4 linked regions of the Homo sapiens genome follow. The protein of the gene in region 1 purifies or fractionates together with the protein of each later gene. This does not show direct contact. Each region holds a gene or a part of one and is shown on either strand. Other genes may lie near its edges.

Region 1 (7,083 bases):
TTTTTTTTTTTTTTTTTTTTGAGACGGAGTCTTGATCTGACACCTAGGCTGGAGTGCAGTGGCGCCATCGCAGCTCACTGCAACCTTTGCCTCCCAGGTTCAAGCAATTCTCTGCCTCAGCCTCCTGAGTAGCTGGGATTACAGGCGCCCACCACCACACCCGGCTAATTTTTTTATTTAGTACAGATGGGGTTTCACCATCTTGGCCAGGCTGGTCTTGAACTCCTGACATCGTGATCCACCCACATCGGCTTCCCAAAGTGCTGGGATTACAGGCGTGAGCCATCGCGCCTGGTCAACACTTGCTACTTCTTTCACTTATGGGAAGTAAAAGAAATCAGACACAAAAAGGCCACATATGTATTACAGGATTCCGTTAACAGAAAATGCCCAGAATACGCAAATCCTTATAGACAGAAAGTAAATGCTAAGCTCAGTGTCTGAATCTTGTAATCCCAGCACTTTGGGGGCCAATGCAAGAGGATCACTTGAGCTCAGGAGTTCCAGACCAGGCTAGGGAACATAGTGAGACTTCACTACTACAAAAAATTCCAAAATTTGCTGGGCATGGTGGCGCACACCTGTAATCCCATCTACTTGGGAGCTGGAGGCAGGAAGATCGCTTGAACCCAGGAGGTCGATGCTGCAGTGAGCCATGGTCGAGCCACTGCACTCCAGCCTGGGTGACAGAATCAAAACTCTTCTCAAAAAAAAAATTTAGATTAGTTACTGGAGGGATAAAAGAAAGGGAGAACAGTGAATGACTGCTAATGGATAAGAAGTTTCTTGTTGGGAATTTGGAAATGTTCTGGAGTTAAATAGCAGTGACAGATAGCTAGGGATAAGTAACGTGCCTGAAGTCTCAGCTACTCAGGAAGTTGAGGGGGAAAGATCACTTGACCACAAGAGTTCAAGGCCAGCCTAGGTAACACAGCAAGACCTCATCTCTAAAAAAACAAACAAAAGAAATTAACAAAAAAGTTTTCAAAAGATAGTAGTGATGGATGCACAAACTTGTGAAAATACTAGAAATTTATGAACACTTTAAAAAGGTGAATTTGGTGAGGCGCGGTGGCTCATGCCTGTAATCCCAACACTTTGGTAGGCCAAGATGGGAGGATCATTTGAGCCCAGGAGTTCAAGACCAGCCTGGGCAACACAGTGAGACCTCCACAGAAAATTTAAAAGTTAGCTGGGCATGGTGCCGTGCACCTCTGGTCCCAGCTACCTGGGAGGTTGAAGCAGGATCACATGAGCCCACTGAAGATCAAGGCTGCAGTGAGCTGTGATTGCGCCACTACACTCCTGCCTGGGCAACAGACTGTGGCCATGTCTCAAAAAAAATAAAATAAAAGGGTGAATTTTATGGTATGTGAATTATATCTCATTTTTTTTAATTAAAAAAACAAGTGAAAGGATTGCTCAACTCAATGTTCACTGCTCACTGAGAAGGCTAAGATTTGACAATGCCTTCATGGTCATACTCAGTTCCAAGAATCCCATCTACCAACTAATCACAGCAAAAAGACTTTTTTAAAAAAAGGGAGGACGGCCAGGTGCAGTGGCTCACACTTTGGGAGGCCAAGGCGGGCGGATCACTTAAGGTCAGGAGTTCAGAACCATCCTGGCCAACATGGTGAAACCCCATTGCTACTAAAAACACAAAAAAAAAGGCCGGGCGAGGTGACTCACACCTGTAATCCCAGCACTCTGGGAGGCCGAGGCAGGTGGATAACAAGGTCAGGAGTTTGAGACCAGCCTGGCCAACATGGTGAAACCCCGTCTCTACTAAAAATACAAAAATTAGCCAGACATGGTGGCACATGCCTGTAGTCCCAGCTACTTGGGAGGCTGAGGCAGGAGAATCGCTTGAACCTGGGAGGCAGAGGTTGCAGTGAGCCGAGATCGTGCCATTGCACTCCAACCTGGGTAACGAGCGAAACTCCGTCTAAAAAAAAAAAAACAAAAAATACAAAAAAAATTAGCCAGGCGTGGTGGCAGGTGCCTGTAATCCCAGCTACAGGGGAGTCTGGGGCAAGAGAATTACTTAAACTCGGGAGACAGAGGCTGCAGTGAGCCGAGATCACATCACTGCACTCCAGCCTAGGCAACAGAGAGAGGCTCCGTCTCAAAAGAAAAGGAGGGAGGGCACTTGTGGGAGGACATACATGTGCAAGTTGCAGTAAGTAGAATTTTCCCTTCACACCCAATCCATTGAAATCCAATCATCCCCATCTTCAAATATATTCCCAATACTACTATTTCTCCTCACCACCATCTCTCCCCAGGACTAGCTTGACAGCCTTCTGACTGATCTCCCTACTTCCACTCTTGTGTTCCCATGATCTGTTCGAACCCATGATGTGTTCACTACCCAGCAGTCAAACATTTTTGAAAATGTTTATCACATCACTTCACTCAACACCCTTCAAAGGGTTCCTAACACATTCAGATTTTACTCAAGTCCTTACCATGTCCTATAAGGCCCTACAATTGTACTGGCCCTTTGTGACCCTCTCTGACCTCCTCTCCTACCACTCCAGCCCTGATGGCCTTAATGTTCCTTAAATGTATCACACTCAAACATGCCAAGCACACTCCATCTCAGGGTATTTGCACTTGTTTTCTGCAGGGAATGCTCCTCCCCCAGAAACCTGAATGGCTCACTCTATCACTTGTTTCACAGCACACTTAAATGTCATCTCGAAAAGGCCCTCCATTATCACCTAATCTAAAGTAACCCACCCTCTGTCACTCTAACCTCTTATTCTGATTCCGTATCATTTCTCTTCAAAGCACTTAGCATTATTTTTTTTCTTAACGTGTGTCCACCATAGTAGAAAGTAAACTCCACGAGGGTAAGAACTCTTGTTCTATTCACTGCTGCATCCTCAAAACCCAGAACAATGTCCGGTACAAGGAAAGTACACAATGTGTTCAATGACTGAATTCACTGGCTGACTTGGCAAAAACATTCTTCAGTGACATAGGTACTCACCTAGTATTTTTTTTAATTACAATAAACAAAGATTTAGCAATTTGGACAGAAAACATGTTAGTATTTTACAAGATTACCTATTCATCTAAAGGACCACAAATTTATAGCACAAAATTTGCCATGTTATGGATCTTAAATCCCTTCAAATATCATAGATATGAGGTTAACATTCACACCAGATTAACCAAGCCTCTGACTTCATCCTACCTACTTACTCTTACATCTTAACTAGCAGGTCCAATGACAGCATGCTTCAAATGACAGTAACATCTATCTAATTTCCTAAGAAAAAAACCTCCATCTTCTTCCTACCCCAGGATGAGTTACTAGGTCCTGAATTCTACTTCTTTTAAGACAGACTCTTGCTCTGTCGCCCAGGCTGGAGTGCAGTGGCGTGATCTCGGCTCACTGCAAGCTCCGCCTCCCAGGTTCGCACCATTCTCCTGCCTCAGCGTCCTACAGGCGCCCGCTACCAAGCCTGGCTAATTTCTATTTTTTGTATTTTTTTAGTAGAGACGGGGTTTCACTGTGTTAGCCAGGATGGTCTCAATCTCCTGACCTCATGATCCACCCACCTCAGCCTCCCAAAGTGCTGGGATTACAGGTGTGAGCCACTGTGCCCGGCCCTGAATTCTACTTCAAAAAGGCTCAGATCTATCCTCTCTGCTCCACTTCCAATGCATTAGTTCAGGCCCTTATTCATTTTCCACTTGGACTTCTTACCTGGAATTTCCATCCTTACATTCAGCTCTCCCCTTGTTTTTGCAGTGGCCTGATCTCAGCTCACCGCAACCTCCAGCTCCTGGGTTCAAGCAATTCTCAACAACTTTCAATGGTTCCATGTAGTTTTCAAGAAAAAATTTTTTTTTTTTTGAGACAGAGTATTGCTCTTGTCACCCAGGCTGGAGTGCAATGGCATGATCTCGGCTCACTGTAACCTCCACCTCCCGTGTTCAAGCTATTCTTCTGCCTCAGCCTCCCTAATAGCTGGCATTACAGGCTCACACCACCATGCCCTGCTAATTTTGTATTTTTAGTAGAAACAGGGTTTCACCATGTTGGCCAGGCTGGTATAGAACTCAGGTGATCCACCTGCCTCAACCTCCCAAAGTGCTGGGATTACAGGTGTGAGACACCATGCCTGGCCAAGAAAATTTTCGACTCCCTCACTCAGCTTCATCTCCCACCACTGCCCTTTTATTCCTACCCAAACATATCATGCTTTAAGTTAATTCAGTCACACCAAATTACTTACAGTTTCCAGATACTTCACCTTGTTTCGTTCATTTTCCAGTACGTTATCCTCTATCTGAAAAACTTTTCTTCCCTTCTTTGCCTAGCAAAAGCCTTCGCACTCAGCTTAGATGTCAACTCCACCAGAAAACTTTCCATAGCTCTCTGATTTAGCTGTCCTCTTCTGTCCTCTCATAGCATTTCCTACAATTATTTTATGTTGGAATACTCATAAATAGATATGCTAGGAGTTTTGCTTTATTTATCTGCATCTTCTGCTACACTGTGGGCTCCCTGAAAGCAGGTCAGATGCCTCACCCACCTTCATTCTATATTACCTGATATATGAAACGGGTTGTTGTTAAATGAATGACTTATGAAAGGGGTGAGACAGAAGGAAGAGGGGGAAGGAAAAGAACAGAGAGGGGGGAACGAACTGACAGAGTGGATAGGGAGACAAACAAAGGTAGAGGTAGGGGGAGAGAGAGAGAGAACATGTACACACACACAGGGCATTAAAAAAGGGAATTTGTAATCAATCCATTATTTTTTCATGTGGCCTAAGCCAATCATTGTTGAAGAAAGAAAAGTACATCTGGAAAATTCAATCTACGTGGATTCTAAATATAACCACCTTTTTTTTTTTTTTTTTCCTGAAATGGGGTCTCCCTGTCACCCAAGCTGGAGTGCAGTGGTGCCATCTCGACTCACTGCAACCTCCACCTCCTAGGTTCAAGCGATCCTACCTCAGTCTCCTGAGTAGCTGGGAATACAGGCATGCGCCACCATGCCCAGCTAATTTTTTTATACTTTTAGTAGAGACGGGGTTTTCATCACTTTGGCCAGGCTGGTCTTGAACTCCCAACCTCAAGTAATCCACCCACCTCAGCCTCCCAAAGTACTGGGATTACAAGCATGAGCCACCATGCCCGCCAAAGTATAATCATCTAAATCATTCCTCCTCTAAAGATTCTGGTATATCCAGCCCAACCAGCCCATTTTAATTGAAAATTTACTGCTACGTAATAAAAGACGTTAATAACATGTACAATATAGATACAGGAAAAAAAAGTTTGAGTTTAAAAAAAGTAAAAATCGGCCGGGCGCAGTGGCTCACGCCTGTAATCCCAGCACTTTGGGAGGCCGAGGCGGGCAGATCACCTGAGGTCAGGAGTTCGAGACCAGCCTGACCAATATGGAGAAACCTTGTCTCTACTAAAAGCACAAAATTAGCCCGGCATGATGGTGCATGCCTATAATTCCAGTTACTCAGGAGGCTGAGGCAGGAGAACTGCTTGAACCTGGGAGGCAGAGGTTGCAGTGAGCCGAGATCGCACCACTGCACTCCGGCCTGGGCAACAAGAGCAAAAGTCCGTCTTAAAAAAAAAAAGTAAAAATCAACCTGACATAATAAAAATAAGTCTTGGAATTATTTACAAACTTTAATAATCTACCACCTCCTTATAATGTGGTACTGCTGATTTTTATTTTATTTTATTTAGTTTTTTTTTTTTTGAGAGAGAGAGTTTCACTTTTTTCGCCGAGGCTGGAGTTCAGTGGCGCAACCTCAGCTCACTGCAACCTCCGCCTCCTGGGTTCAAGCAGTTCTCCTGCCTCAGCCTTCCGAATAGCTGGGATTACAGGTGTGTGCCACCATGCCCAGCTAATTTTGTATTTTTAGAAGAGACAGGGTTTTACTACGCTGGCCAGGCTGGTCTCAAACTCCCTTGACCTCAGGTGATCCTCCTACCTCGGCCTCCCAAAGTGCTGTGATTACAGGCGTGAGCCACCATGCCCAGCCGGCACCACTGATTTTTAAAAGTCTATCAAGAGCATGAAAAATAAATTCAACATAACACCAACATCACGATCTATGTTACAGCACAAATTCCTTATGTATTACGAATCATATTCCTCAAAAACATACTGTGAAAAAAGTAACATAGCATATATTAGACAGTAATGGGAATGTATTTGTTTACATAAATTCTTAAAGGTAGTACATGGGAAAACTGCTAAAACATACAACACTTCAACTTTAAAACAACACCTAAAAAGTATTACTACATAATCTAACTTTCAATCACCTCAATAAACTGTCACTTAATAAAATTTAAAGATTTGTTGTCGTTAATACAACAGACAATTCAAACTTAAAAGCTTGCTCCCAAGTACAAATATGTTTGGTAAGATCCAATAAATGGCATAAAACCTTCTGTAGCTCAATGATCATCGTAATACAGAAATTACACCAGGCACGGTGACTCTCGCCTGTAATCCCAGCACTTTGGGAGGCTAAGGCGGGAGAGTCACCTGAGCCCAGAAGTTCGACACCAGCCTGGGCAACACGGCAAAACCTCATCTCTACAAAAACTACAAAAATTAGCCAGGTGTGCCTGTAGTCCCAGCTACTCAGGAGGCTGAGGTGGGAGGATTATTTGAGCCCAGGAGGCAGCAGTTACAGATCGTGCCAGCCAGGGTGAAATAGTGAGACTCTATATCAAAAAGAAAAATAAAAAAGAACGAAAGAAATTGGGAACACACAGAAAAAGAAACAAAATTTAGGCCTAATACACTCAACATTAAATAGATTCTGAATTGCAATTTTTGCTAAAGCAAAATACAAATTACAAGAAGCTTCTCATCTTTTATCACATAAGAAATAAAGTTGTAAGAAATAAGCTAAGTTTTTAGTACTAATAATTACTAGCAAATTCTCTGAGATTTGCTATACTTATAATAACAGGAAGTACTTGTATGAAGTTAGAAATTTATTTTAGTAACTTTTTCCTTTTAACGTTAAAAGCACCTTTTTAAAAAATGCAGTAGAATGTAATGCTGAGCACTTAAAA
Region 2 (8,037 bases), on another chromosome or scaffold:
CCCTCAGGGAGGTCGCTGATGCCAGACCCTGGGAGCACCTCCCCGCTCCACTCGTCTGCGCTGCAGCCGGTTCCTATTTGCCCGACGCCGCGACTGCGACCCAGGCTCCCCGCCGCAGCCGTTCTTGGGGGGGCTCCCGCAACTCAGCGGGCGCGACCCCCCGCCCGCTCCCTCGCTGCTCACGCCGGGCCCCCGCTATGTGACTGGGGGCCCGACCCGCACCCATGGGGCACCGCTCCTCCCTCGGGGTCCGCGCCTGCACCCGACGCTCAAAGCCCCTCTCGGAGTCCCACGCTCGCATGCGCTGTCCCGAGCCCTCTGGGGGTCCCCTCCTCTCACCCCGCTGTCCTGGCCCCTCTCGGGGTCACCCTGCTCCCACCCGCTGTCCCGGCCTCTCTCTAGGTGTCCTGCTCTCAGCCCCGCTGTCTCAGCCCAGCCCCCTTCCGGGACCCCTCCTCTTCTCCCACTGTCTTGGCCCTTCCTGGGGTCTTCTCACACTCTGTTCTAAGCCCTCTGGGGATCCCCTGTCTTCACATCCCCTGACCGGTCCCCTCTCTTTACTCTGTCCTGGATTCTCTCTGGGTCCCCTCCCCTCACCTCGGGGTCTCCTCTCCCCGGGTGCTGTCCCAGCCCCTCTCGGGGTCCCCATCTCTCAGACTCTCAGTGCCGGCCCCTCTCGGGGACCCTTCCCCTCTCCCCGCTGTCCCTGACCTTTTCTGGGACCTGGTCCTTCAGGGGACCCCCTCCCCTCATCCCCCTATCCTAGTGCCTCATGAGGCACCCACCCCTCACCCCACTACCCCAGCCCCTCTCCGGGTCCCTTCCTCTCACGCGCACTGTCCCGGCCCCTCTTGGAGACCCCTCCCCTCAGACTTTCAGTCTTGGACCCTCTCGGAGTCCTCTCCACTCAGAGCCACTGCCTCGGTCCCTCTCGGAGTCCCCTCTCCTCACCCGCTGTCCCGGTCCCTCCCGGGGTCTCCTCTCCACAGTCTGCACTGTCGAGCCCGCTCCCGCAACTCCCCTCACTCTGCCTGGGGTCCCGCCGCCTCGGCTCCCACTGTCATGCCCCGCGCCCCGGTGCTCTCACCTCAGACCTGCTGTCACCACCCCCGGGCCCGGCGCCGCCGCCGCCGCTTCCTCTCCCACACTTGTTCCTGAGTCGCTCTCCTGTGGCTTGTTCCCCGGCGGATCCTTGGGTCCGGTCGCTGAGTGCCGGATCCGGCTGTGCGCAGCCTCTGCTCGCGGTCTCGGCGTTGCGTCCCACTCTCCACGCAGGACCCCGCCGCCCGGCGCCACAAGGACCCTCCCGCGGCCGCCGCCGCTGCTGCTGTCCGAGGTGCGGCTCCTGCCAGGGGTGGCCAATCGCACCGGACTGCGCCGAGCACGCCCCGCCCCACCGTCTCAGTCCGCCCGCCCCCTGCCCCGGACCACGCCCCAAGCTCGGCTCCAATAGGCTCTCTACTGACCTTCCCTGATCGCGGGGCACAGGGCCGGGGCCGTATATAGGTATTTGATTGATGGAGCCTGGGAAGCCGAGCGGTCGATGGAACCCGAGGATTGGCGGAGTTGTCGATGGGCGGGACAGGGCAGGGCGGGGTCTCCTCAGACGCGGAAGACCTTGCAACTTTAGTAACCTACGGGCCCGCCTGGGGTGCGGTCAGTCTTGTTTGTGCTGCTCTCCGGTCAAAGTTCATGGCGCTTCTCCCCACGCCTTTACTTTTCTTGGGAGATTCCCAGGGACCACCATGTTAGAGCCTTTGGGGAGGACCCCAGTCTCTCGCTAGACCTTGCACAGCTTTCTTAGTAATTCTGCCATGAACTAATATAGCATTAATTTGCCCAGGATTTGTAAAAATTTCCTGGATTTAAACCATTTCTTTTTAAAATCTCTTGCAAGGGAGTTGCCTCTCCTTGAATTGAGTTCAGCAGCCGTCAGTTTGATACCGTTGGGGGAAAAAAAATCTATATACAGTACTAGGTGCATACTTTGCCCAACTAAGCGTTCAATGCGGGGCACATTTTGATAGGTGCAAGGACAAAGCTTTAGAAATTTTCAGTTTGTAGGTTTTTATGACAGTAGGAAGACTGTGGTAGGGGAACCCTATTATTAGCTTAACAAGGTTTCAGCAAAGCTATTCAATATAACCTTTTTCCAGGGCCACAGGTTTTAATGATTCTATGTGAACGTGTGGCCAAAGGATAACGAGCTTTGACCCAGGTTTAACATGTGATAATCAGAGACTCCTCTTGATCCACGCTAAAGGATAGTGCCTGCCAGGGGTGAAAGTGCATCATGCTACTAAGACCCATTTGTGTTATTTTTGTGAAACTGGATATGCTGATCAAATCAACACCGGAAACAGAAAACTGCTTTCCTTACTCTTAACGCCAAAAGTAAGTTTATGGACTTTAGAATTTAGCATTTTATGAAGAAATTGTCTCAGGAACACATTTTGATCCTAAGTTTTGTCAGATGTATACAGGCCTTAGTTCTCAGAGAACCCTCGATTGTTAACTTTTTAACTCCAGCTGACAAAATGTGTTTGTGTTCTAAACAGTATACATGTTTCTTCTAGTGTTTTAAGAATCATACGCCATTCATCACCTGAGGTCAAGGGTTCCAGACCTGCCTGGCCAACATGGTGAAATCCCGTCTGTACGAAAAATACAAAAATTAGCCGGGCATGGTGGCACCCACCTGTAATCCCAGCTACTAGAAAGGCTGAGGCAGGAGAATCACTTGAACCCGGAGGCGGAGGTTGCAGTGAGTCGAGATCGCATCACTTCACTCCAGCCTGGGTGAAAGAGCAAAACTCCGTCTCAAAAAAAGAAAAAAAGAAAAAGAAAAAAAAGAATCATACTCCATTCCAATTGTGATGTCCCCCTTTAAAGTTTCAGTTTGGGTGTTAGGGTAGGCAGAGAAGGCCTGGAAGCAAAGAAGTTGTGGAAATGGGGCTGGCAGGGCTTCGTTTCAAGTCAAGTCGAGTTCCTGAGCGGTGTGGCTGAGTACCGTTTTGAGAAGGGATATATAAAAAGATTTCAAGGTGGTAAAACTTGGTTTTGAGGGAACTTGATTTTTACAGGAGTATAGCGACTGTCCAAAATCATATTAAATAAATCTAAAGGTTAGGTAAGACTAAAGCCATAAGAGAATTTTTTTGAGTAGGTCCACCTTCACTAAAGAGCATTTTTTAGTTCTGCAGCTGGCAATCTGGACAGAAAAAAATGGGGTAAGTTTTCATAACCCAAGTGCTCAGTTGTGTCTATTCATTACATATAAAAAAGAAATGCATGACCATTAACAGATGCTGTTTGCAGTCAAGAAGACAGCAGTAAAACATAAGCAGGATAAAAATCTCAGCGTCTTGAAAGGAAACCATTTAGCAACGAAATAAACTTAAAAATTAATTGTATCAATGAACTCTTGATTTCTAAAATCTTTGCTTTTTCTGCACTATGATTACTGCTACTGACAGGAACGCAAGTTACTCAATATAGTTGATTGCAAGTAATTTAGATGTTCTCCAACAGCACAAAGAAAGAAAATGACTTCATCTTTTGGACAAGAGACAGTTCTGGAATCCTAGTTTAAATATAGATGGCAGACCTACGGTGCGATCTGAGAATGATTCTTATTTAGAAGGGGCTTCAGAAGATCTCAGAACTCCTGGAAAGACATCTTAGCATTCCATTCTGGAAATTCTTTAGTTTTGTTGGGAGAAAAAATCACTTACAAATAGAGCCAAGATTTTAATTAAAACAAGGTAGTAAATAAATGTCAAAATAAGTGGGATGAGAATAACGTTTCATTTTCAGAAGAGTCCATAGGGAACAATTCAGAGATAAATTTAATCACAAAAGGTCTGAGAATGGGAATATTCGGTTCCACCCTGGTTTTCACATCTGTTCATTTTCACTACTGGTTGCGTTTCCTACGGAGACTCGGGTGGAACATAAAAGTGGGGCTACTTTGGACAAACCATTAAAAACCTTACCCTTTTTTCTCGCTACACACAACTAGACCACATTGCTCTTAGCTAAAGGGACACCTTAAATCTATTCGTTCAGCAAAACTTATAACACCGTGTTCCTTTTCTACTCAGAGGGAATCGCACAAATTAATTCTTGCAGATACTCAGCTCTCCTGTTTTTTAAGCTTCCACGTGGGCCTTAGCCAAATAACTTCTGGTAGGCAAATTCTCCCCTTCTTCAGTTGAGAGCTCAGAGCAAGCTGTTGGATTAAGCAAAAGCACCTTTTAAAAAATTAATATTCAAGGCAGCTGTACCGCGGAGGGCCTGGGTCTCGGAGTCTAAAAAATCAGACTGGACGTTACTATTTTTTTTTAGGCAAACGACAGCTCGTTTCTCATTTGTAAAACCGGGGGAACATCTTACCGAATAAACCTTACACAAACAGAAAGGATTCCTAAGGGCTGGGAAAATACTATTTTGCTGTCCCCAGGATGGAATATCAGCATCCTTGTCTTTTAGCTCTTAATAAAGCTCTAACTAGTCACAGGAGGAGCCAGGCTGCATGATCACGCACACTCTGGACGTCTAGGTTTTCCGACCTAATAAGGGGGCAGGTCGCGTCGTTCCCTGCTTAAATTAGAGACCACCTCCACCTGCCAAGGGCCCTTCAAACCCTCCGCCCCTAGGTCGCTAACGATCACCGCTTTAGTTCTAGCTCCAGGCGCCGCCTGGCGGCTGTCTCCGGAAGTCGCCTGCGAGCCTCGGGGTCCTGACCGCTGCTGGGCCTGCCCGTAGATTTGCCTGACTCTAGCGAACCTGGCTCCGCCCCTCCCCCACTATACGTTGAGGATTTTAAGACGGCGATGAAAGGGCTGAGGTTGTGGCGACGGGGGCGTCCAGCGGCATCTCCACTCCCCCAAGGATGGCGGAATCAGGCCGTTGTCGGGCAGCTCTCGACCCGGAAGTCGCTCGCGGCGCGAGGCCCCCGTTGCCGAGCGCGGGCGCGGGGGGCGGAGCTCGGCGGAGACGGGGAAGGGGTCGCCGTGGCTGCCGGTCCTCGAGTTGGGGGCTGCCGCGGACACTGCTAGGCAGACGGCGAGTACCGAGCGCGGGTGGCCGCGGTGTCCGTGGGCCACGCTCAGCTGCGGTCAGAGGCGACATGAGTGCCGCGGGGCTGCTGGCCCCGGCCCCGGCCCAGGCTGGAGCGCCGCCGGCCCCCGAGTACTACCCCGAGGAGGATGAAGAGCTGGAGAGCGCCGAGGACGACGAGCGCAGCTGTCGGGGCCGCGAGTCGGACGAAGGTGAGTCCTGCCGCTCGCCCGGCCGCCCGGAGCGGAGGTGGGACCGCTGGGGGAGGGGGTGGGGCTGTTCGGGAGAGGGGCGGGGCGGCCTCCGGGGCCTGGGGCTGCGTGGAGGGGCCGCCGGGAGTTGCGGGGCTCGGGGAAGTTACCCCCATCCGTGCTGGAGTAGCGGGGAAGCCCTGGGTGCGTTACACTCGACCGTGATGGGGAGAGGGGACTTAGATGTTGTCACGCTGGGGGTCCCTTTAAGACCCCGTCCTCCCTCCCAGCCGTTTCTGATTGAACCTCACTCACTAGTAGGAATTAGAAACTCATTTACTGAATACATCGAGTGTAGTTCGCCCCTTTTTTGTGTGTGAGAGCATCAGAGTCCAAAGTTGCCCCTCCCCACCCCCGAAATGCATAAGTCATCTATACTTTAGGTAGTACACTATTGAGAACTCAGGTTGGTTAAAGGAAAGGGACCTAGAACCAGCCAGATACAGGTTTAAATTTGGCTTTGTCACTTAACTCAGCTTTGTAAACTTAAGTTTTCCAGCCTCGATTTACCCAACTGTAATGGAGCTGTTTAATTCCCACACCTGCCCTAGAAGGCACTTCCTAGGGTCGGTATAGGGATTAAATGACATGCGCATAAAGTACTTGGCCTGGTACTGTAAATACTCCGTAAATGTTCTCCCCACCCGCCCCCCTCCCGGAAACAGGTAAGAGAGGGAGAGATTTGCTTAATGGTCCCCAGGTGTTGTGTTTTCAGTCCCACGCTCTTTGCACTGTCATCACAGAGTCTCAGAGCCTTGCTTTTCAAACTGGGCTTTATAATTTGGCAAGTGTGAGGAACGCTATTTTGGAGGGATGGAGGAGGAGGAAGGTGATGAAATGTGAGAGATCAAGGGAGGAGAAATAGGAAACAAAGAGAGACCGATATATGAGCGGAATATTCTGGGACAAAATCGGGCCGTGGAGCAAAAGCTAGACCAGCTGTTTGGAATGGGGCCTACGTTTTATTCATCTGAGTTTCCCGAGTGCCAAGTAATGTGGCTGACCATGACAGGAACTCAGGGAAGGCCTCTTGACTGAAGGAGGGGAGAAGGGTTTGTGGGGAATTGGATCTGCAACAGCCTTACAAAAGACAGCTGCATATGCATGACATACAAAGTTGAGGGACTGCATTCGATTTAATTCCATCAGAAGACACGGCTTAACCAGAGATTTTGAATGTGAAGCACTTGCACTTCATCTCATACCCACGAGGGGGCGCTGTGGAGCCAAAATTGAGTTTTTTTTTCCTTCCAGTATAGGGGCTATTAAAATTTTGTACACACCCCAGCCATTAGCTTGTTCTAAGAACAATGTTTAAGATGTTCTGAAACAGTTTTCGTTTGATCATCTGGCCTCCTCCTTGTTCCCTTTAGTTGTAACTTGGAAAATATTTATTTGTGTCAGATTCCCCTTTTTTATTGTATACAGTTGGCTCTGCGTATCTGTGGGTTCTGCATCTGTGAATTCAACCAAGCGCAGCTCAAAAATATTCAGGAAAAAAATTGGATCTGTACTGAACATGTGCAGACTTTTTTTTTGTTATTCCTAAACAGTGTAGCGTAACAACTACTTACATAGTATTTACATTTTATTGGATATTGTAAGTAATCTTTTTTTTTTTTTTTTTAAGATGGGGTCTCACTCACTCACCCAGGCTGGTGTGCAGTGTCACGATCTCAGCTCACTGCAACTTCCATCTCCTGGGTTCAAGCAGTTCTCCTGCCTCAGTCTCCGGAGTAGTTGGGATTACTGGCACCTGCCACCATGCCTGGCTAATTTTTGTGGTTTTATTTGTTGTTTTGTTTATTTTATTTTTTTTTGAGATGGAGTTTCACTCTTGTTGCCCAGGGTGGAGTGCAATGGCGCGATCTCGGCTCACCACAACCTCTGCCTCCCGAGTTCAAGCAATTCTCCTGCCTCAGCCTCCTGAGTAGCTGGGATTACAGGCATGTGCCGCCACCCCCAGCTAATTTTGTATTTTTAGTAGAGACGTGGTTTCTCCATGCTGGTCAGGCTGGTCTCGAACTCCCGACCTCAGGTGATCCACCTGCCTTTGCCTCCCAAAGTGCTGGGATTACAGGCGTGAGCCACTGCACCTGGCCCTAATTTTTGTGTTTTTAGTAGAGATGGGGTTTCACCACGTTGGCCAGGCTGGTCTGGAACTCCTGTCCTCAGGTGATTCTCCTGCTTTGGCCTTCCAAAGTGCTGGGATTACAGACATGAGCTGCCATGCCTGGCCTGGATATTCTAAGTAATCTAGAGATGATTTAAAGTGTACTGTTGGCCTGGTGCAGTGGCTCATGCCTGTAATCCCAGCACTTTGGAATGCGAAAGCAGGTGGTTCACTTGAGGCCAGGAGTTCGAGACCAGCCTGGCCAACGTGGCGAAACCTCATCTCTACTAAAAATACAAAAAGTAGCCGGGTGTGGTGGTGCACCCCTGTAATCCCAGCTATTTGGGAAGCTGAGGCAGGAGAATCGCTTGAACCCAGGAGGTGGAGGTTGCAGTGAGCCGAGATTGTGCCACTGCACTCCAGCCTGGGCGACAGAGTGAGACTGTGTCTCATTAAAAAGAAAAGTATACTGGAAGATGTGCGTAGGTTATATGCAAATACTATGCCATTTTGTCAGAGACTTGAGCAGCTGAGGATTTTGGTATCCACGGGAGGTGCAGTAACCACTCCCCCACGGATACTGAGGGACAACCGTGTATCCTGATGTAAAAT
Region 3 (7,673 bases), on another chromosome or scaffold:
GTTGTAGCAACATTTAAATTGGTTTGTCCAATTATTTTAAATGTATTTTAATTTTACATACGGGTTGCACTGAAGTTCTTTATGAAGCGAACTTCCCAGGGGGTGGGTGGGTATTTTTATGATAATGTTTGAAAAATAATTCAAGCAACCTCAAACACCATTTTAAATCGACAAACTAATTATAATCCAAGTTTATGAATTAACATACAACTGATGCCTACTAAGCAAAAGACGTTTGACTTCCTACAGAGTAGGTCTGTGGAAGTCTTTCAGAACTACGCGGCAGAGCTCAGCATTTACACCGAAGTCCAAGGAGCTGTGACCCTTGCGACAGATTCGCTCGCTTCTCGGCGCTCCCAGCTGCGCCGCTCCAGTACTCCCGGGGGGGCAGGACTGTGATCTTTCCTGAAGCCAAAAAGTTCATCACCCTAGGTGAACATGAAGCAAGCAGCAAGCCAGGCTCTCCCCAGCAACGACAGGAGGACAAAGTGGCTCCATGAACTTTGCTGTCTGGACAGCTGGAACCCTGCACCCCGCCCCGCGCTACTTTTTTCTATCGTCGAACGATCAAAGTGGTCTCAGCCCCTGCCTTCCTTCCGTCCGGAGCCCCAGGGTCACCCCACGGGGCCCGTCCGGCCCGAGGACAGCACCTTCCAGAAAAGTTTCTGCGCCGAGGGTCCCCCTCGTGGACGCAGCCCCAGTCACTCACGTTTCCACGGCCACGCGCGGCCCCACCCTCGGGTCAGCAGAGATGCGGCCTGAAACTGTCTCCGAGCCGGCCCCGCGGGTCGCGGGAGGCGGTCCGAACTGCAGCCCCGGCCCCGAGCCCACAGGCCCGGGATCACTGCTACTGCTATAAATCCGCGCCCGAAAGTGGCCGGGCTGAGCGGGGAGAGGGGCCGGGGCGACACCCGCCAGGCCTCCAGCCAATGGGGAGGAGGCCAGCGGGAGACTCGCCCCGCACCCCGAGAGCCGCCGCCTATGGGAATCGCCGATTTGGAGGGCGGAGGCCAGGAGGAGAACCAACCACACCGCAGGGCGGAAGAGCACGGCCCGCCCCAGCAGCGAGAAGAACCAATCCAAGGCTGGAGGCCGAGCGACCCGAAGACGTTCAAATCAACTCGTCCACCCTCCACCCCGCTCCTCCCCGAAAAAGAAAAAAGAAGACAGCGGAAACACAGACCCATACCAGTTATTGCGCTAGGCCCGCCTTCATCCGCCTCAGCGACCAATCGTTCCGCAGGGGAATGATAAGGACATTCCACGAAGGACATCACAGCCAACTACTGGGGGGCTGAGGCGGGACGTTCCATAATATGCTAATGAAGTTCCTATAAAATTCGCTGCGAAGCTACGTCTCGGATAGAACGCGCAGGGGCGCCTTCCCGGCAGAGGCGTCTAGTACTTTCGGGGATAGCGGTCAATTTTTTTTTTTGCCCCCACCCAACTCTTCCGTTTCCCTACTGCGCAGCCTTGTAAACATTAGTAAACTCCGAGTGGTGATCCACATTCAAAACAGAGCCCCCAAAGCCTTGACTGACCTCGCAGGAAAGTTTCCCCAACAGCCAACAATTCCCGGCGGACACGAACTCGCCACCTCTCTCTGACACCCGGGGCGGCCAGGTCTGCAGAGAACGACGCACAGGTCCTCTCACCTGCCACAGTCCTCTCCAAGCCAGCGATCTGCCCGCGCCCCCCCGAGCGCAGCGCAGATGGGCGCCTTCCCCGCCTCCGCTCCTCCCCTTCCCTTCCCTTCCCTACGGCACACAGAGAAAAGCCCTCGTCCTCCGCAAACTACAACCGGCGGCGTCGCCCCTCGCAGTCGGCCCCTACTCGGTGTCCAGCTCCAAGTGAGGGCCGGAGGGGGCTGGGCGGGGGCGGCCGACCTACCCCGAGCGGAGTACTACCCGGTACTTTATGTAACACTCAGATTCGGGACTGAGTGGGGGGCGACGAAGAAGGGCCAGAGGAACGGCGTTGCCCGGGACCGAGGCACCGGGTCCGCGGGAACCCCGGCCCACAGCCGCCCTCCTCCTGCAGCCCCGTCTCGGCGCCCTATAGCCCCAGGCGCCGGCACATCCCTCCATCTCGCGCCGTAATCTGCACCCCCTCCTAGAGGACGCGGCTTGGACCCGCCGCCCCCTCCCCCGCAGCACCCGCCTCATCACTTCACTACAAAGAGCGCTTTGGTCGCGCAGCCTTGCAGCGAGACCTCTCGCGCCTCCTTCCTCCTCCGTGTCCCGGGCTTTGCACACAAGGACCTTGGCGAATCAAAGGCGCTCCAGACCTTTTGTTCCTGCCCCTGCCGAGGGCCGCCGCTGCGGAGCCGGCCGCTTCCTCCGGTCCACGGCAGGACCGGCCCGGCTCCGCGGCGCGCCCGGACCCGCCGGGAAGGAGGCGGCCGCCCCCGCCCATCCATCACCCGGCCGTACCTTGGTATTTCGCGTCGATCTCCCGCATCAGCGAGACATTTCTCTGCAAGTCGAAAGGCAGGGACTCGATGGAGTCCAGGTAGTCCTCCACATAGTTCACCAGGTGGAGCTGCTCCCCGTTGGCAGGACTCAACATGGTTCACCCCGGAGGTCCCCGGCGACTCGGCGCGGCTTTCCGCTTCCTCCACCCCCCGCCCCCCTCAAAAAATAGCACTGCAAAATGCAAAGCCCTCGCTCTCCCGGCGCCCCCCCGCCGGCTCCTGCTTCGGCCCGGCGGCTACATCTGCCGAGCCCGTCCGCCGCCTCCGGGTCCGCGGGGACCCCAGCGCCTGAGGGCGCGGGCCGCGGTGGCGGTGGCTCCCGGGCGCACGCCCCGGCCGGCGGCGCAGGCCCCCTCTCAGGCGGCGGGGCTGGCGCCGGGGGCCGCGCGTACGAGCGCGCACACACCGGCGGGAGAGGGCCCAGCGCCGCGGCCGCCGCTGCCCACTCGCCCACTGGGCTGGGTAGAAGAGAGGAGCGGAGCGGGCAGCGGGAAGGGGCGCGCTCCGCTGGCCGCCGAGCCGCACTTGTCCAACGTGGAAAACCCAAATACCAGTTTCAAACACTTGGGAAACATTCAGCCCCGCTGCGCAGCGCGCATGCGCCCCGGCCCCCTCCCCCGGCAACGGCCCCGCCCCCCGCCGCATTCACGCCCCTCACCGTCCCAGGCCCTGGGGGCTGCGGGCTCCAGGCCGGCCCTCGCGGGGGCGTGGCCTTGCCTGTCACTTTTTCCAGAGGCGAGGGTCGCGGAGGGGACAGCGTCAGGGCCGCTGGGGTGTGGACGGCGGGCGAGGCGCAAACTTTACTAGGAGTTTTTGGCACTTGGAGGCAGAGCCTGTTGGGCGGCACAGCACGCCCGCTGGGAAACGCAGGGGAGCGGCCTGCTTCGCTGAAAACCCGACCAGGACCTAACGGGCCGCGGGACAGAAACCTCCGAGACCATGGTACACAGCAACTACCGCAACTCGCTCCTCAGCCCCTGACTCTTCGTCCCCGCCCCACAGAGCAGTATAAGTAGGGCCCGAAACAGAACTGGCAACCGCAGTAGCCAATCTACTTGCCAACATCACTTTGACAGCCCAATCACGATGAAGAGGAGGCGGGGAGACCGTGAGTAATGCCCCCCGGACTCTTACTACTAGAAACCCAAGTCCTCCGGGAGGCGGAAGGAAGGGGAGGGCCGGGCACGGGCGGAAGTGGCGGCGCATGCGCACTGGCACCCTCTCGGTGTCCTTTGAGCTGCGGCCGCAGAGTGCGCGGGAGACCTACCCATTCCGCGGCCGGACCACCACTCCCAGCAGCCTAGGCGGCTCCCGCGCCTGCGCCATCCGTCACCGCCCTCCCTTTGTGTCGTCTCCCGGTACTCAGTTTGGAACGGCTTGGAGACAAAGGGGCCTGAGAGGGAAGCTGCTTCCTAGTGCCGAGCCCCAGAAGAGGTGGATAGGCCCGAGGGGCGCCTTCCCTAGGCCTTATCTCTTCCCGCCCTGTGTCATGGACACCGTTCTCGGAGGCCGCTCCCCACACTTGGAAAGGCCGCCCACAGTATGCAGACACCCGGTCGGCCGGCGTCCTGAGGCCATTCAGCTCCCCGGACCGCCCTCCCCCGCGTCGCCCCTCTACCCTCCCAAAGCTCCCGGATTTTGGGCTTTCTGAGAAGCCTGGACGCCACGCGAGCCCGTTGCCTAGGCGACCGGCCCCGCGCGCCGGCCCCCCCCCTTCCGGCCAAAGGGCCCGCCCCTCCTGGGCGTGGCCTCGTGCCTTTGTGCACTTCCCGCCTGGCTCTCTGGTTCCGGGGCGGCCTCGGCTTCGGCCTCCGCCCCGCTGCGGCCGCCGCGGGTCCCCTCCGGGGTGGCCCCGAGAGCTGTGTTCGCCACGCTTGGCTGCCTGCTTTTCTCTGATTTTCTTCCGCCTTGGACCCTGCTCTATTTGCATTGTCTTTTTTTCAGCAAGTCGGAGAACGGTGCCTTGTCAGTTTTCACCTTTCTCACTGGACTTTCTCTTTTCCGGAGAGCCGGGTTGGTGGTGCTGCCTGTGTATTCCACGAACTAAGCCCTGTCCCCAGCCCTTGCAGTGTTTCTGTATCAACTCCACGCCAGCGCGGTTCTCCATTTTTCTTAGCCTCTTAATTAGGACAGGGTCGGATTTCAGCTTTTATCCACCGGGTTTATCCTGTTGCAAAGCAGAGTACACAGTTTTAGACACAAAATAATTGCAGTTGAAATGGATACACATTCTGGTGGTAAGATTTGGAAACGTGGTATTTGATGGAACCCTGTTGTAACATCTAAAACTCTTTGGATTTTTTAAAAACGTATTCTGTGTAATCCAGTAAAAATTTGGATTCGTCCAGTATTTATAGAGTAGATTATTAACCGCAGTGGTGCTCATTCCAGGGCCCTGCCGGGTATTTTGTGCTATGGATGTGAGTACGGCAAAGAGACTGAATTAAGCTGTTTTGTATTTGGAATCGGATTGTTCACGTTGCAACGTTGCTGCAATGATAAATGGATGGATACTCTTTACACTTTGAAGTGGATTTAATCTTCACTTTTAAGCCCCTTCATCTCACCTACACAGCAGGAGAGCTTTGGCTTTGATATTTGGGGAAATGGCTGTTATTTTACTTACAGATCACGCTATTCTAGTCTTGGCCTAGTTAAAAGCAAATGAGTACTTTAGTTTCTACAAGATTTATTGGCCACTACTTGGTCTGCACAAAAGACTATAACACTTGGCCGGACGCGGTGGCTCACGCCTGTAATCCTACCACTTTGGGAGGCCGAGGCGGGCGAATTGCCTGAGATCAGGAGTTCGGGACCAGCTTGGGCAACATGGTGAAACCCTGTCTCTACTAAAAATACAAAAAATTAGCAGGGCATGGTGGCGCGTGCCTGTAGTCCCAGCTATTGGGGAGGCTGAGACAGAATCACTTGAACCTAGGAGGGGAGGTTGCAGTGAGCCGAGATTGTGCCACTGCACTCCAGCCTGGGCGACAGAGCAAGACTATCTCCGGAAAAAAAGAGAAAAAAAGACTACGACAAGATAACATTATGTGGAAACAAACATTATGTCGAATACAGAGTATAGAGGGAGTACAAAGTTGAATAAGGAAAATTACGCCTTTCCCTCAAAAAGCATATAAGTAATTTAAAAGTACAATAGTAAGAAATAGACCGGTTCTTCTATTCCTAGCATTCATTGGCTCTAGAATGAATAGTGTTTATCTGAACTCAAGAATAAAATTGGAAGTAATTTACCCTTTACAAAGATAAGATGGAGTTTAACCTAGGTTTTCTTTTTAAAAAAAAAAATCACAACACAGTACAATCTGAGTAATGATTTTGTTCCTCTAGTTATGTACTCTCTTCACATACACATAAACCAAAAAGGCATCTTAAGCATTCAACAAGGAATATTGACGAGTGTCTACCATGTGCCAACTACTGGTCCGTGCGCTGGGGATACAGTAGTGAAAAGTTTTTTGGAGCTTTACATTCCATAAAACTTTTAGCCCACCCCTTGGGATAAAAAGTCAAAAAAGATTTTATCTTTTTTGGAACAAACTTAGAAGATCAAGCAATAAAACATAATTACCTTTGATAACGAATTTTAAATGTCATTGAAGAAAGGTGCTTAATTTTGAAGATACGTTGAAGAATCTTGTCTCTTTCAGTTTTGTTTCCTGTGGCGTGTTGCAAAAATGGATGTTAAAACTTTTCCGTAGAACAGAAATTTCAAATGGATTAAAAAGAAACATTTAAAATTAAACTTTTTTCTAAAATTATATTTCCAGTCTAACTGAAAATGCTCAAACCTATGAGAGTCAGATATAAGAGATGAACATATAATTCTTTTTCTTTTTTTGAGACGGAGTCTTGCTCTTGTCACCCAGACTGGAGTGCAGTGGCGTGATCTCAGCTCACTGCAACCTCCGCCTCCCGGGTTCAAGCGATTCTCCTGCCTCAGCCTCCTGAGTAGCTGGGATTACGGGTGCCGGACGCCATGCCCAACTAATTTTTGTATTTTTAGTAGAGACGGAGTTTTGTCATGTTGGCCCAGGCTGGTCTCGAACTCCTGACCTCAGGTGATCCGCCTGTCTTGGCCTCCCAAAGTGCTGGGATTACAGGCGTGAACCACCGCGCCTGGCCAAGCATAGAATTGTTTAAGTTTCAAAGTGCTTAAAAAATAAATGCAAACTCATTCATCTTAAACTTGAAAACCCCTAAACCATATGCTACCGTAATCAACTCTACTTCTGATTTACAAGATTTTGCCTTGAAAGAAAATGTAATACTGAGAACTTGATTTTGTTATTGTTGTCATTAAGGACTGAGAAATGGCATTAGTGATATTTTGGAATCATTAACTTTAACACACTTCCTCGTTCTGACCTAGATTGGAGAGGGAGGTGACTTCAATTAAATGGATCCTCTTTTTATGTATATATGGTGTATTAGTCAGGGTTCTCTAGAGGGACAGAACTAATAGGATGGAGATATAGATATATATAATGTATATACATATATATGTTTATTAAGTACTAACTTACATAATCACAAGGTCCCACAATAGACTGTCCGCAAGCTGAGGAGCAAGGAGAGCCAGTCTGAGTCCCAAAACTGAAGAACTTGGAGTCTGATGTTCGAGGGCAGGAAGCACCCAGCACAGGAGAAAGATGTAGGCTGGGAGGTATAGTAATGAAGAGCATTAGCAGTCTATTTTACTTTACCTTAATATTCAACCTGCAGATATTCAATATGCAAAAAGATCACATTTCTAACCATCATTAGGTAATGAGCTATGTTTCTCCTTGTTTTGATGATCCGCAAAAGCCTTAAGAAAACAGAATTAGCTGCCGGGCACGGTGGCTCATGCCTGTAATCCCAGCACTTTCAGAGACCGAGGTGGGCGGATCACCTGGGGTCGGGAGTTCAAGACCAGCCTGACTAACATGGAGAAACCCCATCTGTACTAAAAATACAAAATTAGCTGGGCATGGTGGCACATGCCTGTAATCCCAGCTACTCAGGAGACAAGCAGGAGAATTGCTTGAACCCGGGAGACGTGAGAAAGAGGCAGGAGAATCGCTTGAACCCAGGAGATCACGCCATTGCACTCCAGCCTGGGCAACAAGAGTGAAACTCCATCTCAAAAAAAAAAAAAAGAAAAAAGAGAAAAGAGAATTGGCCAGGTGTGGTGGCT
Region 4 (7,083 bases), on another chromosome or scaffold:
TGCCCATATTGACCTTGTTAAGAAAACATCACAAGGAAATGGCCACTTTGTCAATCCTGAGATTTAACTTCAGGTACCACTCTTGTCTGTGCTGCTATCTTACACTGGGAGACTGTGACATACTGTCTCACTCTTAATGTCTTTACTAGTCAATGATGAATCTGGTCGAGATTCTGAAGTCAGTGCCAGGGAGCACATGAGTTCCAGCAGCTCCCTCCAGTCCCGGGAGGAGAAGCAAGAGCCTGTTGTGGTAAGGCCCTATCCACAGGTGCAGATGTTGTCGACACACCATGCTGTCGCATCAGCCACACCTGTTGCAGTGACAGCCCCGCCAGCACACCTGACGCCAGCAGTGCCACTTTCATTTTCGGAGGGACTTATGAAGGTAATGGAGAGGGTTAAAACTTCACACTGAACCAGAGCTCGAGACTGGCTAATGTTTGTAACAATTTGTATAAAATCTTAGGCTGTATCTTAGGATCACATTTCATTTTTTCTTTATGACATATGAGTTCAGCTCCTTTCTGTAACTCAGCCCTGATTTTCTGCAGTGCCTTGTCTTGTGCTGCTGGGCAGTTGGCATCATAGGATCTTTGCTGTTATCCATTTTGATACTGATATTATTCAACTTATGGGCATGTTAAGTTAGATACAATCTTGAAGGGACCCTCTTTTTTTTTTAAGCCAGTCAGATTTAGCAGTGGGGGCTTAATGACATTAATGTTTTGTTTCTGTTTTTATTTGAGACGGAGTCTTTCTCTGTCATCCAGGCTGGAGTGCAGTGGTGCGATCTTGGCTCACTGCAACTTCCACCTCCAAGGTTCAAGCGGTTCTGCAGCCTCAGCCTCCCAAGTAGCTGGTATTACAGGCGCACGTCACTACGCCTGGCTAATTTTTGTATTTTTAGTAGAGATGGCGTTTCACCATGTCGGCCAGGCTGGTCTCAAACTCCTGGCCTCAAGTGGTCTGCCCGCCTTAGCTTCCCAGATTGCTGGGATTACAGGCGTGAGCCACTGTGCCCAGCTGACAGTAATGTTATAAGTTCAGATAACCCAGTACCATGGGACCAAGTGGAGTGGCACTCTTCTTTAAGGTTTGTTTTAATAACTGGTTAATTTGGGGGTTTCTGAGAATATTGCCTGTGTATTACCTTGGGGTTGTGTTTCAGTTACTGGGAGTTTTGTTCAATCCACCCAAACTTGGGAGGCAGCATCATGTAGAAGAAAGGGTGTGGGCTGTGAGCCATACAGCTCTGGGCTTTATTCCCAGTTCTACTTCTTACTGTGTGTGTGGCTTTGAGCAAGTCAGTTAGCCTTGCTTTGTATGTTTCTTTATCTGTGAAATAGAAATGCTAGTACTTCAGTGGAAACACTGTGATGATAATAGATAAAATGTATAAAGCTTACGGCATCTTTCCTGGCACTTTCCAGGTTCGATTTGTGCACTCTTAATTGTGGATTGAAATGCATCACCAGTATGAGGCCATTGATATGTTTTGTGTGGTTTTCTGTTTGCAGCCGCCCCCGAAGCCCACCATGCCTAGCCGTCCCATTGCTCCTGCTCCACCTTCTACCCTGTCACTTCCCCCCAAGGTTCCAGGGCAGGTTACCGTTACCATGGAGAGTAGCATCCCTCAAGCTTCAGCCATTCCTGTGGCAACAATCAGTGGACAACAGGTTTTTCTTCCTTTTAATTTGCTGATTTTCAAACTGAAATGCCAAACTGTTGATCATGATTTATTGAATGCTAGCAGTACATTAGTCACGGTAATAAAAAAAGATCAAACAGTCACTGATACCTGCAAGTGAAGATAGTAGGTTTGAGAGAGAAGGATAACTGTAAAGGGAGTAGAAGCCAGTGTCCATAGTGGTCATTTAGCTAGAATTTATTGAGCAGCTACTAGATGCTCGATTCGACCCTAGTGTGATATATAAATCTAGATAAAACAGTCCGTGTCCTTGAGGAGTCCGGAGTCCGGTTCGTGTTTGGTTTTAGCGTCAAGAACTGCCTTCCGGGGGTAGGCAGTGCTGCTCTGTGGTTTCTCTGAGGAGAGCAGATGTGCATCTCTTGGGATAGGTTACCTCAAGCAGCTCTCTAGTTCCAAACTTTTTTTTTTTTTTTTTTGAGACAGAATCTCACGGTGTCACCCAAGCTGGAGTGTAGTGGTGCAGTCTTGGCTCACAGCAACGTCCACGTCCCGTGTTCGAGCCATTCTCTTGCCTCAGCCTCCCGAGTAGCTAGGATTACAAGCGGGCACCACCACCCCCAGCTAATTTTTTTATTTTAATAGAGACGGGGTTTCACCATGTTGGCCAGGCTGGTCTCCAACTCCTGACCTCAAATGATCTGCCCGCCTCGGCCTCCCAAAGTGCTGGGATTACAGGCATGAGCCACCGCACCCAGCCTTAGTTGCGAACATTTATTCTGAAGTCTTCTGTTTTAAGGTTTTTTTGTGAAATTTTGCAATCCTACTCTGCTGTGTACCTGATTAATTAAATATTTTACATTTTTTACCTGGGGAAAAAAACTAAATCTAAAAACTTTCCCTTCACATTTTCAAGAAAAATTTATATCCCAAAGAGGTGTACTGTGTTTTTTCCTTTTGTCATACTGCTGAGTACTCTCAGAAGTACCAGAACCCTTAGCTGAGAAGCCCTGAACTCTGTGGTTTGGGAGAATGTAAGGGACATTTCAGGGTTGAGCTGAAGAACTGGTAGGGAGCACCTGTTGGATACCAACTGACATTTACTTAGAAACAAAAAAGCTTAAAGAATGGATGGATGCAGTGGTATGTAAAGGAAATAGTGAGAATGGGAAAAAAAATAAGCATTTGGCCAGAACAGGGAAAACAAGTGTGAAAGGTAATATCGCAGATGAGAGTTTCTAAACGTAGATATCGAAGTATATTATCTGTAATTATGTGGGCCTGCAGCAGTTGTGGGGTCCTCATACTTCTCACATGCCTGTTAGCACAGTTCATTGTACGGTATGGCATGTAAAAGTAGCTCAAGCTGAATGTCCTTAGCCCTTTCTCTTGGGATACTCACTATCTAAAAAACAACCTGACCCACATTTGGAGGCAGGTGACTTCCTAGAGGCAATGGCTAAGAGCAAACATGTAAAAATAACGTTCTATCCTCTTTCTTTCAGGGCCATCCCAGTAACCTGCATCACATCATGACTACAAATGTGCAAATGTCTATCATCCGCAGCAATGCTCCTGGGCCCCCTCTTCACATTGGAGCTTCTCATTTACCTCGAGGTAACGACTTGCAAGTTTTGTTCAAACTCTCAAAATGTAGTAGTAGATATACATTTGGTAAAATACGTAACACAGAATGTATCTAGAATCAGCTTGTTAAAGTTGCAGAACAACAGTCTGCAGAACCGTGAACCAAATAAACCTCTTTTATTTAAAAAGAAAAAAAGGCCAGGTGCTGCGGTTCATGTCTATAAACCCAACACTTTGGGAGGCTGAGGTGGTAGGTTCACTTGAGTCCAGGAATTTGAGACCAGCCTGGGCAACATGGCGAAACCCTGTCTCTACAAAAATACAAAAAATTAGCCAGGTGTGGTGGCATGCGTCTGTAGTCCCATCTACTCAGGAGGCTGAGATGGGAGGATGGCACTCAGGAGGCTGAGATGGGAGGATGGCACTCAGGAGGCTGAGATAGGAGGATGGCACTCAGGAGGCTGAGATGGGAGGATGGCACTCAGGAGGCTGAGATGGGAGGATGGCTTGAGCTCGGGAGGCAGAGGTTGAAATGAGTTGAGATTGCGCCGCTGCACTCCAGCCTGGGTGACAGAGCGAGAACCTGTCTCAAGAAAAAGAAAAAAAATCGCAAGACAGTAGAAATAAACTTAGAGCAATCCATGTTTTTAGCATGGTTTAATATGTGCTTATTATAGTTGTATTACAAGTGTGTATATTTATGCAATTAAAGTGTTTAATATGGTCTAAAATTGTCCTATATATTGAGGAACTGCCCAAGCTTTGATAATCTCAACATGGTCTTTATTATTAGACTGCTTATCTGCAACATGGTCTTTATTTTTAATACATAAGTCACAAATATTAATACTGAATATTTTTAAAGTTCAGTGATGATCTTTACTCAGTTTTTTAACTTATGTAACAATAAAATGATGATGATAATTATTTTTTGAGATGGGGCCTCACTGGGTTACCCAGGCTGGTTTCAGATTTCTGGGGCACAAGCGATCTTCCCACTTTAGCCTCCTGAGTGGCTGGGACTACAGGTGTGAGCCACCACATGGCTAAGATTAATTTATTTTTACCCTTAAGTTCTAATAGGTTGTGAGGTAATAAATGAATTTTGACTAGAAATTTTTACCTTTTATTGGAGACTTTACAACAATTGGAGATTGTTGGCAAAATCAAGTTAGCAAACGCAAGACCAGGTTTGCTTGGTTATAGCATAACTCAGCAGTTCTCCAAATGTGGTTCACAGGCCCTTATGGGGGTCTGCAGGGTGAAAAGTGCAGGGTTAGGTTTAAGGTTAAGGTTCATAATGTGTCCCTTTGGCAATGTCGACGTCTGCTCTAATGGAACAAAGACTGGAAGGCAAAGTGTCCGAGCCTCGTCAGAGCTGAGGCAGTGGCATCACACTGCTGTTCCCTGTGTGCTTTACCACTGTGCACACTTGCAGTTAACAGAAACAAAAAACAGCAGCTAGTTTCACTTAAGGTTGTCTGTGAAGAGGCAATATAAATTATTATTAAATCTCTTGAATACACATTTTCTTTGTTTTCTCTGTGATGAAATGGGAAGTATACATACCATACTTCAGCTCGATATTGACATGCTATCTGAGTTTTGGGAAACATACTGATTATTTTCCCAGGGAATATAACTAGAATAAATATAATAAACACTTTTTTTTTTTCAGGTGCAGCTGCTGCTGCTGTGATGTCCAGTTCTAAAGTAACCACAGTCCTGAGGCCGACCTCACAGCTGCCAAATGCTGCTACTGCTCAGCCAGCAGTACAGCACATCATTCACCAACCAATCCAGGCACGTCGGAGCCTGGGGTGCATTAAGGGCCTCATTGGAGTTATTCATTCTGCCAGGCACTAGGCACATCCTTGACCTCAGGGACTTTCCATCTAGTTGCCAAGACATAGGGAAGTTTGAAAGATGCACAGTGTCATGTGGCAAGCTGTAAGAATGCAGAGGAGAGATGGTGGGAAGCCTTCCTGTTGGAAAGGCTGTGCTAACGAGGAATCAGAGAAGTGAAGAGGAAGTGAAGGGGGAAATGAACAGTGGCAAGGAAGGGAGTGATGGTTGTAGACAGCAGTTAGTAAAGGCTAGCTAGGATTGAGGGATTTTAATTTGGATTGGGGGGATCTGTGGACTCCTAAAAGTTAGGTGTATATCTATGTATATTCCAAGAACATGGTCCATGCCATTCAGCTTTTTCTTAAGGAAATCTATGACCTCATTATTACTGAAGTATAATATATTTGCAGGAAATATAGTATCTATAAATTGGGTTCTCTAGGATATGGAGTATAAACTAGACTTTATATACAGTAGAGAGCCACTGCGTTTTTTTGTTTATTTGTTTTTGTTTTTTGAGACAGTCTCACTCTGTTGCCCAGGCTGAAGTGCAGTGGTGCGATCCCAGCTCACTGCAACCTCTGCTTCCTGGGTTCAAGCGATTCTCCTGCCTCAGCCTTCCAAGTACTTGGGACTACAGGTGTGCACCACCATGCCCGGCTAATTTTTATACTTTTAGTAGAGACAGGATTTCACCCTGTTGGCCAGGCTGGTCTCGAACTCCTGACCTCAAGTGATCTGCCTGCCTCGGCCTCCTGAAGTGCTAGGATTACAGGCGTGAGCTACTGTGCCCGGCCAAAAATCATTTTTGTCTTTTTAACACAATGGCTCTGTGTATCATTAAAGTAATACTGTTGAAAGATGAGATTAGGCCAGGCGCAGTGGCTCACACCTGTAATTCCCAGCATTTTGGGAGGCCAAGGCGGGCGGATTGTCTGAGATCAGGAGTTTGAAACCGCCTTGGGCAACATGGTGAAACCCTGTCTCTACTAAAATGCCAAAAAATTAGCTGGGCATGGTGGTGCGTGCCTGTAATCCCAGCTACCTGGGAGGCTGAGGTGGGAGAATCACTTGAGTCCGAGAGGCAGAGGTTGCAGTGAGCCAAGATCGTGCCACTGCACTCTAGCTGGGACGAGAGAGTGAGACTCCATCTCACAAAAAATAAGAAAGATAAGATTAATCTAGCTGAATCACATACAGGAGGTCTGTCCCCTTAAGCACTTTCAGGGGACAGACAGATGTATGAAACAACTGGGTTTAAGATAATAAGGAAGTCTTGATTATGATACTGGGTAGTATCTGTCTAGCCTACAGCTTTCAAGATAAATACTTTTCTGGCCAAGAAAACAGAGTCGGAGGAGTATTAGGCCTCTAGTAGTATATGTGATACATATGAAGGGTTGGAGGAAGACGAGAACCAAGACAAGGAGCTCCCGAGTGAGGAAGCTGGTGCTGTAGCCCTAGTGTGAGACACGCACCTGCACATGGTAGAAGCGGCAGGTAAAAGGGCTGTAGATGAAAAGCAAGGATGAGGAATGGGCAGAGCTCGGCCATTTAGATGCATGTTTCAGGGTTAAGAGCAAGGGAAGAATCAGAACTCAGGTGATTCGAAGAATAATGGTGGGTATGTGGATGAAGCCCAGTGTGGAGCTTATTTTTTAGAGGAAGATTTCACACGTAAGTGTGATAAGGGCACTCTGTCCATGTGAAAACATCCAGAAAGGATATGGGCACCCTGAACGATTACCTAGAAAAGAATACTGTTACCTTGAGTTGCCCTTGTACTCACTAACGTAGATGGCCTGAGAGCCAACAGCTCTATTCAGCAGCTGAGTAGGCCCTCTGTGGAGGTGCTGGGTTGGATGGCAGCGTAAAATGTCTACACCAGGACCAACAACAGACCTGTGGCAACTCTAGATTGAAGGGTGAGATCCCATTGGTACCAATAGTAGGGCAGAATTTTGACTCCAATCACATTTGTACAGGAGGGACTCATGTACTGT

What was found.
Region 2: the proteins of ARID4B (region 1) and SUDS3 purify together in Homo sapiens (affinity purification with western blotting; 3 studies listed by BioGRID, with this or other methods). This does not show direct contact.
Region 3: the proteins of ARID4B (region 1) and ING1 purify together in Homo sapiens (affinity purification with mass spectrometry; 2 studies listed by BioGRID and IntAct, with this or other methods). This does not show direct contact.
Region 4: the proteins of ARID4B (region 1) and SAP130 fractionate together in Homo sapiens (co-fractionation; 4 studies listed by BioGRID, with this or other methods). This does not show direct contact.

What each region holds. Positions count from the first base shown.
Region 1 is NC_000001.11:235,318,175-235,325,257, forward strand, and holds part of ARID4B (AT-rich interactive domain-containing protein 4B), read right to left. Parts: intron 1-7,083. UniProt on the Homo sapiens protein: Acts as a transcriptional repressor. May function in the assembly and/or enzymatic activity of the Sin3A corepressor complex or in mediating interactions between the complex and other regulatory complexes.
Region 2 is NC_000012.12:118,371,561-118,379,597, forward strand, and holds the start of SUDS3 (sin3 histone deacetylase corepressor complex component SDS3), read left to right. Parts: upstream 1-4,994; 5' UTR 4,995-5,131; coding exon 5,132-5,273; intron 5,274-8,037.
Region 3 is NC_000013.11:110,709,045-110,716,717, reverse strand, and holds the start of ING1 (inhibitor of growth protein 1), read right to left. Parts: upstream 3,019-7,673; 5' UTR 2,569-3,018; coding exon 2,433-2,568; intron 1,707-2,432; exon of another isoform or gene 1,275-1,706; coding exon of another isoform or gene 710-1,274; intron 1-709. UniProt on the Homo sapiens protein: Cooperates with p53/TP53 in the negative regulatory pathway of cell growth by modulating p53-dependent transcriptional activation. Implicated as a tumor suppressor gene.
Region 4 is NC_000002.12:128,010,982-128,018,064, reverse strand, and holds part of SAP130 (histone deacetylase complex subunit SAP130), read left to right. Parts: intron 1-149; coding exon 150-385; intron 386-1,517; coding exon 1,518-1,676; intron 1,677-3,150; coding exon 3,151-3,262; intron 3,263-4,910; coding exon 4,911-5,035; intron 5,036-7,083. UniProt on the Homo sapiens protein: Acts as a transcriptional repressor. May function in the assembly and/or enzymatic activity of the mSin3A corepressor complex or in mediating interactions between the complex and other regulatory complexes.